Homo sapiens: one gene and its partners. The protein of the gene in region 1 interacts with the protein of each later gene in a pairwise test. Each region holds a gene or a part of one and is shown in the gene's direction. Other genes may lie near its edges.

Evidence for each region.
Region 2: the proteins of PRC1 (region 1) and NUDT16 interact in a two-hybrid assay, tested with the Homo sapiens proteins (one large-scale study listed by BioGRID).
Region 3: the proteins of PRC1 (region 1) and SLAIN1 interact in a two-hybrid assay, tested with the Homo sapiens proteins (one large-scale study listed by BioGRID).

What each region holds. Positions count from the first base shown.
Region 1 is NC_000015.10:90,977,535-90,981,184, reverse strand, and holds part of PRC1 (protein regulator of cytokinesis 1), read left to right. Parts: intron 1-151; coding exon 152-301; intron 302-795; coding exon 796-943; intron 944-1,890; coding exon 1,891-2,027; intron 2,028-3,650. UniProt on the Homo sapiens protein: Key regulator of cytokinesis that cross-links antiparrallel microtubules at an average distance of 35 nM. Essential for controlling the spatiotemporal formation of the midzone and successful cytokinesis.
Region 2 is NC_000003.12:131,380,124-131,383,873, forward strand, and holds the start of NUDT16 (U8 snoRNA-decapping enzyme), read left to right. Parts: upstream 1-1,650; 5' UTR 1,651-1,681; coding exon 1,682-1,819; exon of another isoform or gene 1,820-1,922; coding exon 1,923-2,192; coding exon of another isoform or gene 2,193-2,468; exon of another isoform or gene 2,469-2,658; intron 2,659-3,038; coding exon 3,039-3,218; 3' UTR 3,219-3,220; coding exon of another isoform or gene 3,221-3,319; 3' UTR 3,320-3,750. UniProt on the Homo sapiens protein: RNA-binding and decapping enzyme that catalyzes the cleavage of the cap structure of snoRNAs and mRNAs in a metal-dependent manner. Part of the U8 snoRNP complex that is required for the accumulation of mature 5.8S and 28S rRNA.
Region 3 is NC_000013.11:77,746,142-77,749,791, forward strand, and holds part of SLAIN1 (SLAIN motif-containing protein 1), read left to right. Parts: intron 1-372; coding exon 373-714; intron 715-3,650. UniProt on the Homo sapiens protein: Microtubule plus-end tracking protein that might be involved in the regulation of cytoplasmic microtubule dynamics, microtubule organization and microtubule elongation.

The sequences.
Region 1 (3,650 bases):
AGCTCGTGTTTAGGAGGCATGAAAACATGCTACTTTGAACTCTCATGAAAGTGCCTCCTCCTCTACTCCAGACATTTCTTTGCGGGAGGCTAGAGGGCTAGCCTCTGTGCTGCTGCTTTGCCGTGAGTGACACTGGCTTTCTATGCTGTAGCTGGAAATGCAGAAATCACAAAATGAAGCAGTGTGTGAGGGGCTGCGTACTCAAATCCGAGAGCTCTGGGACAGGTTGCAAATACCTGAAGAAGAAAGAGAAGCTGTGGCCACCATTATGTCTGGGTCAAAGGCCAAGGTCCGGAAAGCGGTAAGAAACCCAGTGGGTACTGGGTCAGCAGTCTTCTCTTAGCACTTCTGTGTTAGTCATAAAGACTGTTGTTGATTTGGCCAGGCTCAGTGGTTCATGCCTCTAATCCCAGCACTTTGGGAGGCCGAGGCAGGTGAATCATTTGAGGTCAGGAGTTCGAGACCAGCCTGGACAACATGGCGAAACCCTGTATATACTAGCCAGGTGGTAGTGGCGTGCGCCTGTAATCCCAGCTACTTGGGAGGCTGAGACAGGAGAATCGCTTGAGCCTGGGAGGTGGAGGGTTGCAGTGAGCCAGAATCGCGCCACTGCACTCCTGTCTGGGCGAGAGAGTGAGACCCTGTCTCAAAAAAAAAAAAAAAAAAAAAAAAGTGTTGATTTATAATACCTTTGTGGCTTTGCATTATAATTTTACTTAAAAGGGGGGGATCTTTTGCAAACCTGAGTGAATATAAAACTATGGCAGCCACCCTTAACAAGTTTCTTTCTTTCAGCTGCAATTAGAAGTGGATCGGTTGGAAGAACTGAAAATGCAAAACATGAAGAAAGTGATTGAGGCAATTCGAGTGGAGCTGGTTCAGTACTGGGACCAGTGCTTTTATAGCCAGGAGCAGAGACAAGCTTTTGCCCCTTTCTGTGCTGGTTAGTACAAGAGTGAGGTCTTTGGTTTGTTTGTTTGGAGACAGGTCTTACTCTGTTGCCCAGCCTAGTCTCAAGTTCCTAGGCTCAAACAATCCTCCCAACTTGGCCTCCCAAAGTGTTGGGCCACCACACCCAGCCAAAAGTGGGGTCTTCATGTGGCCTGCTCACTAGTTTTTAAGACATCCAGACATTCAACAGGAAGTATATCCTTTTCTGAACAGATAAAGCCACCTTTTCAAGACATTTAGCATAATTGCCATTCCTGTATGAAAAAGCATTTGCAAATTTTATTGGGAAATATTGGTCTCTTGCTTTCTGAAGCAATATGTCACTGTAGCCTCTAGCTGTGAAGCTTAAGTTTTTATCAGGTGCTTACTTTTTGCCAGGTGCAGTGTCAAACCCTTAATATTATTTCACATCCTCATGTCAAGAGGTGAGGATACTAAAGCACATAAATGCTGAGTCATTTAACCCAGAGACATATAATGGTAAATGCCAGAGCCTACGTTTGAGCCAAAAGGAGCTTGACTCCTGGAGTCCAGTTGAATGCTAGTCTGAACTGCACTGAATATAAAGATGGAGCTACCCCAACTAAATTCAACAGATGTTTTTGCACATTTTCTGTGATCCACCCCTCTACTGGCTGGGCAAGACAGAAAAGCAGAATATGAAAGAAACCGAAGACAAGGCAAGAGATGATGCAGATTTTTGACAACATTATTTTAGTCTCTATCCTAGTCTCTTAGGCCCTACTCCCCCAGGCTGATTGTGACAAAGCTGGTTTTTATTAACCACTATATATCTATTACACACACACACACGCCTCTTCCTGTATCAGTTTACTATAAGGAAAGAATCTATTTCCATTTTAGGGAATCGGGGATTCGTAAAATTGGATACTAAATACTAGAGGAATTGTTTTAAACTACTGGGCCTATATTTTGCAGAGGACTACACAGAAAGTCTGCTCCAGCTCCACGATGCTGAGATTGTGCGGTTAAAAAACTACTATGAAGTTCACAAGGAACTCTTTGAAGGTGTCCAGAAGTGGGAAGAAACCTGGAGGCTTTTCTTAGAGTTTGAGGTATTGTCCTAGTTTTTGTGTTTTTAACTGTTAAGAAAGCATGCCATGTACGGAATCAATCCAGTTAGCTTTGTTCTTTGCCAGGCTTTTGATACCCCATCTTTATCATTAAGTCTCTCTGAATTTCTGCTGACCGCCTCTGTTTGATAAGCTTATCTACAGGGTCTTTTAAGAGAAAAGCCCAAAATTAATGGCTTAAATAAGGTAGGCATTTCTTGCATGAATGAGGTTCAGAGGTGGGCAGTGTGGGGCAGGCATGGCAGATCTGCACAGTGAGCAGGACCCCAGGCTTCTCCGGCTCAGGGCGCTCCCCCACCACTAAGGGTGGACCTCATCTTCAGGGCCAGGATGGCTGCTAGAGCTCCCACCCTGATGGCACTTTTTTTTTTTTTTTTTTTTTTTTTGAGGTGGAGTTTCGCTCTTGTTGCCCAGGCTGGAGTGCAATGGTGCGATCTTGGCTCACCACAACCTCCACCTCACAGGTTGAAGTGATTCTCCTACCTCAGCCTCCCAAGTAGCTGGGATTACAGGCATGCACCACCACACCCGGCTAATTTTTTGTATTTTTAGTAGAGATGGGGTTTCACCATGTTGGCCAGGCTGGTCTCAAACTCCTGACTTCAGCTGATCTGCCCACCTCGGCCTCCCACAGTGCTGGGATCACAGGCGTGAGCCACCACGCCTGGCCTGATGGCACATGTCATACAGTGTGGTGGAGGAAGGAACAAAGAAGGCATTGCCCCTCACTCCTTCAAGAGCTCTTCCCGGCTCTCTTCACAGCACCGTGGCTCACATGCTCTGTCACCTGCTGGTGAGGCTGGGTGAATTGCTGCCCCAGGTAAATTCTGGTTCTGTTAAACTAAGGAAGGAGAGAAGAATGGATGTTGGGGCAGGCAACTAACATTCTCTACCATTCCAACTTTTGCTATACTTAGAATATTGCATGGGTATTGATTCCTTTTCTTCTGATAGGCAACATGGTGGGTTCCTTCAGAGCATTTTAGAGCTCAGGGACTGTGGTAAAGCAAGTGAGGTGTGTAGGGCACAGATGGAAGGAGACCTTGTTCTCGGGTTCATGCTGGCCCTGTTAGAGCTCAGAGGGCCTTCAGAGAATCTGAATTCAACTCCTTCAAGTTTACAGGCAGCAAACTAGGACTCAGAAGTGGAGAGAACTATGGGATATCTTACAGCTGCTTAAGAACAGATGTCTTTGTCCTCAGTTATTCTTTACTTCTGGTTACAACAAGAAGAGTAAACATAAATAAGGAGGCCAGGTGTGTGTGGTGGCTCACGCCTGTAATCCCAGCACTTTGGAAGGCCGAGGCAGGCAGATCAGGAGGTCAAGAGATCGAGACCATCTTGGCTAACACAGTGAAACCCCGTCTCTACTAAAAAAATACAAAAAAATTAGCCGGGCATGGTGGCGGGCACTTGTAGTCCCAGCTACTCGGGAGGCTGAGGCAGGAGAATGGCGTGAACCCGGGAGGCAGAGCTTGCAGTGAGCCAAGATCGCACCACTGCACTCCAGCCTGGGCGACAGAGCGAGACTCTGTCTCAGAAAAAAAAAAAAAAAAAAAAAAACGTAAATAAGGAGCTAAGGCAGCAACCTTTGTTGACATGCCA
Region 2 (3,750 bases), on another chromosome or scaffold:
TCCAACACTTGGGTCTTTATTTATTATTATTATTTTTTGTAGAGACGGGGTCTCGCTATGTTGCCCAGACTGGTCTCAAATTCATGACCTTGAATGATCCTCTCACCTCGCCTCTCACAGTGCTGGGATTATAGGTATGTGCCCAGCCCTGGCTCCTCAACGTAAGACATAGCACTGTGCCCCAACCCTCAACTCCAAGAATGGCTACATTTACTTTCTGCCTGGCACTGTTCTAAGTGCCTAACATATCTCAACATCCCTAATAGGTTGGTATCATCTCCACTTAACAGATGAGCTGCTGGGATCTGAGAGAGTTAAGTGACTTGTTAAGGTCACAAACCTGTTTCTGGGTGGGTCCGGACTCTTTCCCACCATATGCCGTCACTTACAGGCTGTGAGTTTATGCCCAGCCCCCCTCAAGGAGCTGCCTCCTGCTTTCTATTGCATAATCAATATCGACACCTGGTGTAGGGGCGCTCTGCAGGGTGGGGAAGGCCTGGCCTGGAGTGAGGGATCCTGCATCTCAGCATCAGGCCCTGAGTAGGCCTCTGCCCTTGTGGTAGGGTAACCCACCCTCCTTCATAGCTCAGAGGTCTGAGGGGGTTTGAGGGAAAGACTAGAAAGCCTAGGAGGCTTCTTCTATCTCTCACCCCTCCTCACTCCCAGTCCTGTGCCACAGGATTTCACTCACAGCTCCTTCCACCCCCACCCTTCCCCTGAAAATCTCACTGCCCTGTGACTTCTCTATGTGCCACTCCCTGTGCGTCAGACCCCCACGATCAGCTGCCCACTGCCTATGGCCACCCCAATTCCTTAGAACTACACTTATCACTGCTCACCCTTCTCCTACTCTCCCCCTCTCAGAAAATGACACCACATCCAGGAAACTCGGAACCACCACTAGCCCAGCGCTCCCTCTTCCCCATTCACTCAGTCACCAAGTCCCCTCAATTTCACCACTCAAGATAGTTGTCAGACCATGGCGCCTGTCCATCTCCATTTCCCTAGGATAGGCCTTGGTGTCTGAGGCCAACCCTGCCTCATTTCCTCCTAACCCCCACCCAGGCCTTGTGCTTTGTGTACCACCACACCCAACCAAAGGTAGTTATTACTTCTTTGGCTCCCAGCACTCAACTGAGCGCCCCAGCTCTTCCTCACCTGCCGGGACACTCCAGCTGACTCCAGATTGCGACGCAGGCGTTTACGTACCAGCCTTTCTCCAGGTTCAGGGCGCTGCCACATCTTCAGCCCCGACCCGCCGCAAGTCTCATTTCCTCCTAACCCCAACCCAGGCCTTGTGCTTTGTGTACCACCGAACCCAACCAAAGCTAGTTCCCTGACTTGCTCTTTTGGCTCCCAGGAGCCTTTAGGTACCGGCCTTGCGCCAGGTTTAGGGCGCGGCCACACCTCTAGCCCCGCCCCACCGCAGGCCCAACCCAGAGGCTGCTTTCGGTTACCCTAGGGTTCCTGGGCCCTGGACTTCAACCCGGTCTGCAAGCCCCGCCCTGATTAGCTGCCTCCCGCACCGGTCGCGGCGCCCCGCCCCCAGGCGCCTAGGTTCCTCCCCTTATCCCTGCAGGGATTGGGCCTTGCAGCACCGCCCAGGCTCGGATTGGTCCGAGGTGAGACCCGCCCCTCTGCCCATTGGGCCTTCGGGACAGCAGAGGAGCAGTGTCCGGCCATGGCCGGAGCCCGCAGGCTGGAGCTAGGCGAGGCCCTGGCGCTGGGGTCGGGCTGGCGTCATGCGTGCCACGCTCTCCTCTACGCGCCGGACCCTGGGATGCTCTTCGGCCGCATCCCGCTGCGCTACGCCATACTGGTGAGAAGGGGGCGCGCCCGGCCACTTTCTGCCTGAGCCCCGCACCCTCTCTGGTGGTCTCCTCTGGGGCGCCCCTGCCAATCCCCGCTTCCCCCTCCCGCAGATGCAGATGCGCTTCGATGGACGCCTGGGCTTCCCCGGCGGATTCGTGGACACGCAGGACAGAAGCCTAGAGGACGGGCTGAACCGCGAGCTGCGCGAGGAGCTGGGCGAAGCGGCTGCCGCTTTCCGCGTGGAGCGCACTGACTACCGCAGCTCCCACGTCGGGTCAGGGCCACGCGTTGTGGCCCACTTCTATGCCAAGCGTCTGACGCTCGAGGAGCTGTTGGCTGTGGAGGCCGGCGCAACACGCGCCAAGGACCACGGGCTGGAGGTGGGACCAGCCTGGGACTCTGTCCCTTTCCCAATTTCCTCTTCTCCCAAAGCTTTCTCTCCCCCAAGAAAGCATCCCTGGAGAAAAGTCTTTGCCCCTCTGACCTTGCCCTCTCCCCAGCTTTCTTGGTGGAGTTGGGATCGTGATCATCTATACTCTGAATTAGTACTGCCAACCTGGGCTTTCTGTAAAGGTCTTTCCCACCCTTTACCAGGAGAGATCCTTTCTAGAACACACTCATCCATGTCTCTCTGCTGTTCCCTATTGACAGTGTGATAGATTATCACATTATCTAGGTGTGGCAACCTAGGTTTTATTCTTGGGGTTTGCTTTTCTTGTGTAGGAGATGTGGCCCTGATATTTCAGGCAGGGCTAGTAGATAGATTATGTATGAAGGTGGTTCTCAAAATTTGGCAGGTAGCAGAATCATCGGGGCGTCTTATTAAAATAGCGATTTCTCTCAGCATTCCTGCATTGGTGGTGGGGCGGGGGGAGAGGAAACCTGAGAATTTGTAGTTTTCAAAAGTTCCCAAATAATGCTGATGCAAATAATCTGAGGACCACATTTTGACAACCACTGGTGAAAGGGTATGAATACATCTTTGAGGCAGTAGCCACTAGAGGTTTAGAAGCAGATGTGGGAAAGATTAATTGATAGAGCTAGATAATATGTTTTGGGTCATTTTCCTGCAGAAGGTTGGGCCACTAGGCTTTAGTGAGGTGTGAGCCTTGGGCCTGGTTCTGCTGGAGTATTAAGGGGTGAGGCCTGATCTGCTGGAGAAAGGATGGAGTTAAGGGAATGAGCCACCTGGGGCCCTAGTGTCTCCTGTCTCCTTCCTTTTACAGGTGCTGGGCCTGGTGCGAGTGCCCCTGTATACCCTGCGGGATGGTGTAGGAGGCCTGCCTACCTTCCTGGAGAATTCCTTTATTGGCTCTGCGCGGGAGCAGTTACTTGAAGCTCTCCAGGACTTGGGACTGCTGCAGTCTGGCTCTATTTCAGGCCTTAAGATTCCAGCTCATCACTAGAGGCAGCCCTCCATGGACCCATGAAAACTGAGATGAGGACCTTGGTACTAGGGAGGGAGGGAAGGACGTGGGAATGTTTTCTTATTGGATCTGAGAGATGATACATGATACCAGATGAAAAGAAGGAGAAGTGTGTACCATATGTTTTGAGCAGAGGACCCTCCAACTTATGGCATCAGGGGCAAAAAGTCACAGCTTATCCCAGGCACCCTGGCAGGTTCTCAGAGCCTGCCTCCTCCCTGTTTATATGCGTACAGCCTGGTAACCCCCAGGCATGCAAATATACAATCTGTAACAACACACAGCCTGACACCTTCCCCTGGTCATGTCCAGTTTAACCTTGAAGTGGCATTTGTCACACTACCCTGGTCCCTGATTGCAAGGAGCTTCTGAAGCAAGGGTGAATCCTTCCCACACTCCTCCATGGTTGCCCTCCAGGGTCTAGCCCAGCCTATTTGTTAGGGAGGATAGAGAAACAGAGCACCCCCTGTGCTTTCTGAAAATAGACTTGCTCTTGTCTTGAGTGGTGACC
Region 3 (3,650 bases), on another chromosome or scaffold:
TTGTTTTAACTCATAGCAAACTATTCATAATGAGATGAATATTTCTTCCTAAGTTCCCCTTCTAAAATATCTCTTGATTTGAAAAGGGGAAATTGATAGATATTAACGAATGAGCTGTGGCAGGTATATATAATCCTCACTGGAATTGGGGCAATCTTTTTGCAAAACAGAATTGTCCAATATTAGATATCTGTTTCATAGGTAAATGTGATTATTGTCTTGGTAAACTTGTCAATTTAGTAAACTTGAGAACAAGATAATAAGTCTCTGTGAGTAATTTATTTGGCACAATTTTTCATCTAATACTTGGTTAATTATAACTAAATGTTAGCTAGATCAAAATACATTAGAGTACTATTTGTTATTTTATAGGTCTCAGGCAAGATTATGCTTCTACTTCAGCATCTGTATCAAGACATAGTTCCAGTGTGTCATTGAGTTCAGGAAAAAAAGGGACATGTAGTGATCAAGAATATGACCAATACAGTCTGGAGGATGAAGAGGAATTTGATCATTTGCCACCACCTCAGCCTCGTCTTCCAAGATGTTCCCCTTTCCAAAGAGGAATTCCCCATTCACAGACTTTCTCCAGCATTCGGGAGTGTAGGAGGAGCCCCAGTTCCCAGTATTTTCCTTCAAATAATTACCAGCAGCAACAGTATTATTCACCTCAAGCCCAAACTCCAGATCAGCAACCAAATAGGACCAATGGAGGTAGGTTGTATGCTTTTTTGGTATTTGATATGCTTTAATTTTTTTATATGTGGTCAAGAAATGGTTTTTGTGTTTTTGTTTTTGTTTTTGAGACAGAATCTGTCTCTGTCTCCTAGGTTGGAGTGCAGTGGCACGATCTCAGCTCACTGCAACCTCCACCTCCTAGGTTCAAACGATTCTCCTGCCTCAGCCTTCCAAGTAGCCGGGGTACAGGCATGTGTCATTATGCCTGGCTAATTTATTTTTTATTTTTTATTTTTTATTTTTAGTAGAGATGGGGTTTCACCCTGTTGACCAGGCTGGTCTTGAACCACTAACCTCAGGTAATCTGCCCGCCTTAGCCTCCCAAAGTGCTGGGATGACAGCCACCATACCCGGCCAAGAAATGGTTTTAAGAGAAATATAGATAATTGGTCAATGTTTCTCAGATTAAAAATCATCCTCCAGACCTTCTCAGTTTGGTCTAAATTTGCGTCTCTAATTGACTGGCTTCTGATTACGTGTCCCAGATTTATAAACGCACAGCCTCAAGAAAACCTTCATGACATAGCTGGCTCGGAATGAGTTATAAATGTGCGGCATCTCTGCATTGTTGCTGGTGCCTGTGGCAGAGGCAGGGTTGTACAAGCTGAGAAGTTTGTGGTCAAGCCCATGGAGGCAAAGTCTGTGAGTTGTCATTCCTTACCTTGTCCACAGCCTTCAGTCTCTTACTGTCTGTTCCTAGCACAGAGTGAGGTTGTAAGCATGAATGATGATGCTTGCAGAGGATGCTGCTCTTACACAGCCAGATCTAGGCAAGTTTGGGATGTGTCTTTCCCTCTGATCTCCTGACATCTAGAATTAAGATCTGTGTAGCAGCAGGAACATGGAGGTTGCTTTCCATTAGCATTTGACAGGGTAATGGGAAATTGATCTGTCTTGTCAACATGGTGGGTTGCTGTCTGTGTCATTCGTTTATTCTATCTCTTCATCATTTATCTTTCTTCCACACTTGCAGAAGTTGGACTCTGACTTCTAAGAACTATGGGAGAAGCAATCATGTAATATTCTAAGCCTGTTGTGTTTTTGTACTAATGATCACCTGAACCCTCACACATAAATTCTATATATTATGGAGAAACAAACCAATAAAAAAATTTATAATTATACAATTACAGTTCTTAATTATTATATAGCACTATTTCTCAAAGCTGGGTCCAGATGTGATCAAATGGTCTTTAAAAATATTTATAGGCCAAATATAAATTTTGTATTAGTGATCAGCCATAACCCTGTATTTAGTTTTTACCCTTTCTTCCTTTATACTGGTATCATTCATGCTGATGCTAATTAAGAGATCATTTGGAAATATTTAAAATTTTGTATTTGTAATTTCTCTTACTACCTTGAGATTTCAAGTTTAAAGGAGTGGTGGCTAAAAAATGTCATCATGACTAACATATTAAAGCTCATAGATCAGAAAGACAATGTATTCCATGTGCTTAGTGGAAGTCATAACATCTTATTAAAATTGAGAGGGCACCTAGAGTTATTTCTCTAAAGCTTTTTTTTTTTTTTTTTTTTTTTTTTACTTAAAGTGTTTTAGAACATCGTAGTCAAGTTGCCAAGCAGATGCTAGCTCTGCATCTTGATTGATATTGTCAATGGGATCATTTTTCTCCGCTTAGCTGTTTGTTGCACCTCAGAAAAGTGGTATTCACTTCCATCAAACACCGTTTGAAAAGGATTAGGTTTCTGTGAATCCTGTGCTGGGATACTCTTCACAGGAAAGTGGAGACATATCACAGTTTAGGTCCCTTTATGGTAGTTTTATTTTGCCTAAAATGTCTAGTTTTCACAATACAAGAAAAATGGAATACAAAGGCAATCTTCTGGATATGACTTCTGACTAATTAGCTTAATGGTTGAGAGCAGAGGCTCTGAAGTCCAGTAGATCCTGTGTTTCTCAACTGTCTAAGGTTCGGTTTCCCTAACTAAAATGTGGACAAGATGATATCTGTCTCTTAGGAAACTTAGGTATAATTTCACACCAAACCATCTGGTACACATTTTCTCCACCTAAATATATTATAAGGAATAAATGAAATAATGAATGTTACATTGCATGTAGCCTGGAGTGGATGTGCTAAATAAAGGTTGTCTTCTCCCCTTTTGTTTTTAAACTTTTATTAACATATGATTCAGATGTCCTAGCCTGCATTTGTTACTATAGAATATTGAGCAAAAAACTGAAATAAGAATGGTAACTTTGAAGCTAATCTATTAAATATTTTTCTAAATTATCAAAATAATATAGATAGAAAATAATTGTAAACTGTTGATTCATTTTAAAATAATTGAGAATAAACTAGAAATGTATATTAATATTTACTGCTTTTGTAGTTCCTACACTGCCTAGATTTAAAGAGATGGTTCATAAAACTTTCTGGGATATTTCTGAGATTCATAGAATTAAAAGAAGCATAACTGGAATAACTTGCTAAATATCAAAATGACTCAACTTGTAGAATCTTTACCAACTTTTTTATAATTCTACGGTATGGCAGGGGTTACTGGAGGCATGATGTAGTCCTTATTATCATGAGGACCTCCCCTGGAGCCTGTGTTGCCTGGATGCCTAGATCTAGCTGTTTGGTGGACAATGAGTGTCTCCTTTAGTCCTAAAGATTCCTGAGTCTTTGTTCATAGAGTGATGAGTCTTGCTGCCTCTTTAATGTGAGCAAGCTCATTTGAATTCTTTACTTGGTCTATTCTTCCAGTTTCCTGCTGCATCTCAGCCCTTGAAGATTAAACTGCTGATTTCTTGTGAAGATAGAACTAGAACATTACTTTTGGTTCCCTGAACTTTAAAGAATATGTGGTTATTAAAACGTTCCACATTGTTTGACAGGAAATGTACCTCATTTCCAGATGGTCTGACACAAGTTGGAGATCAC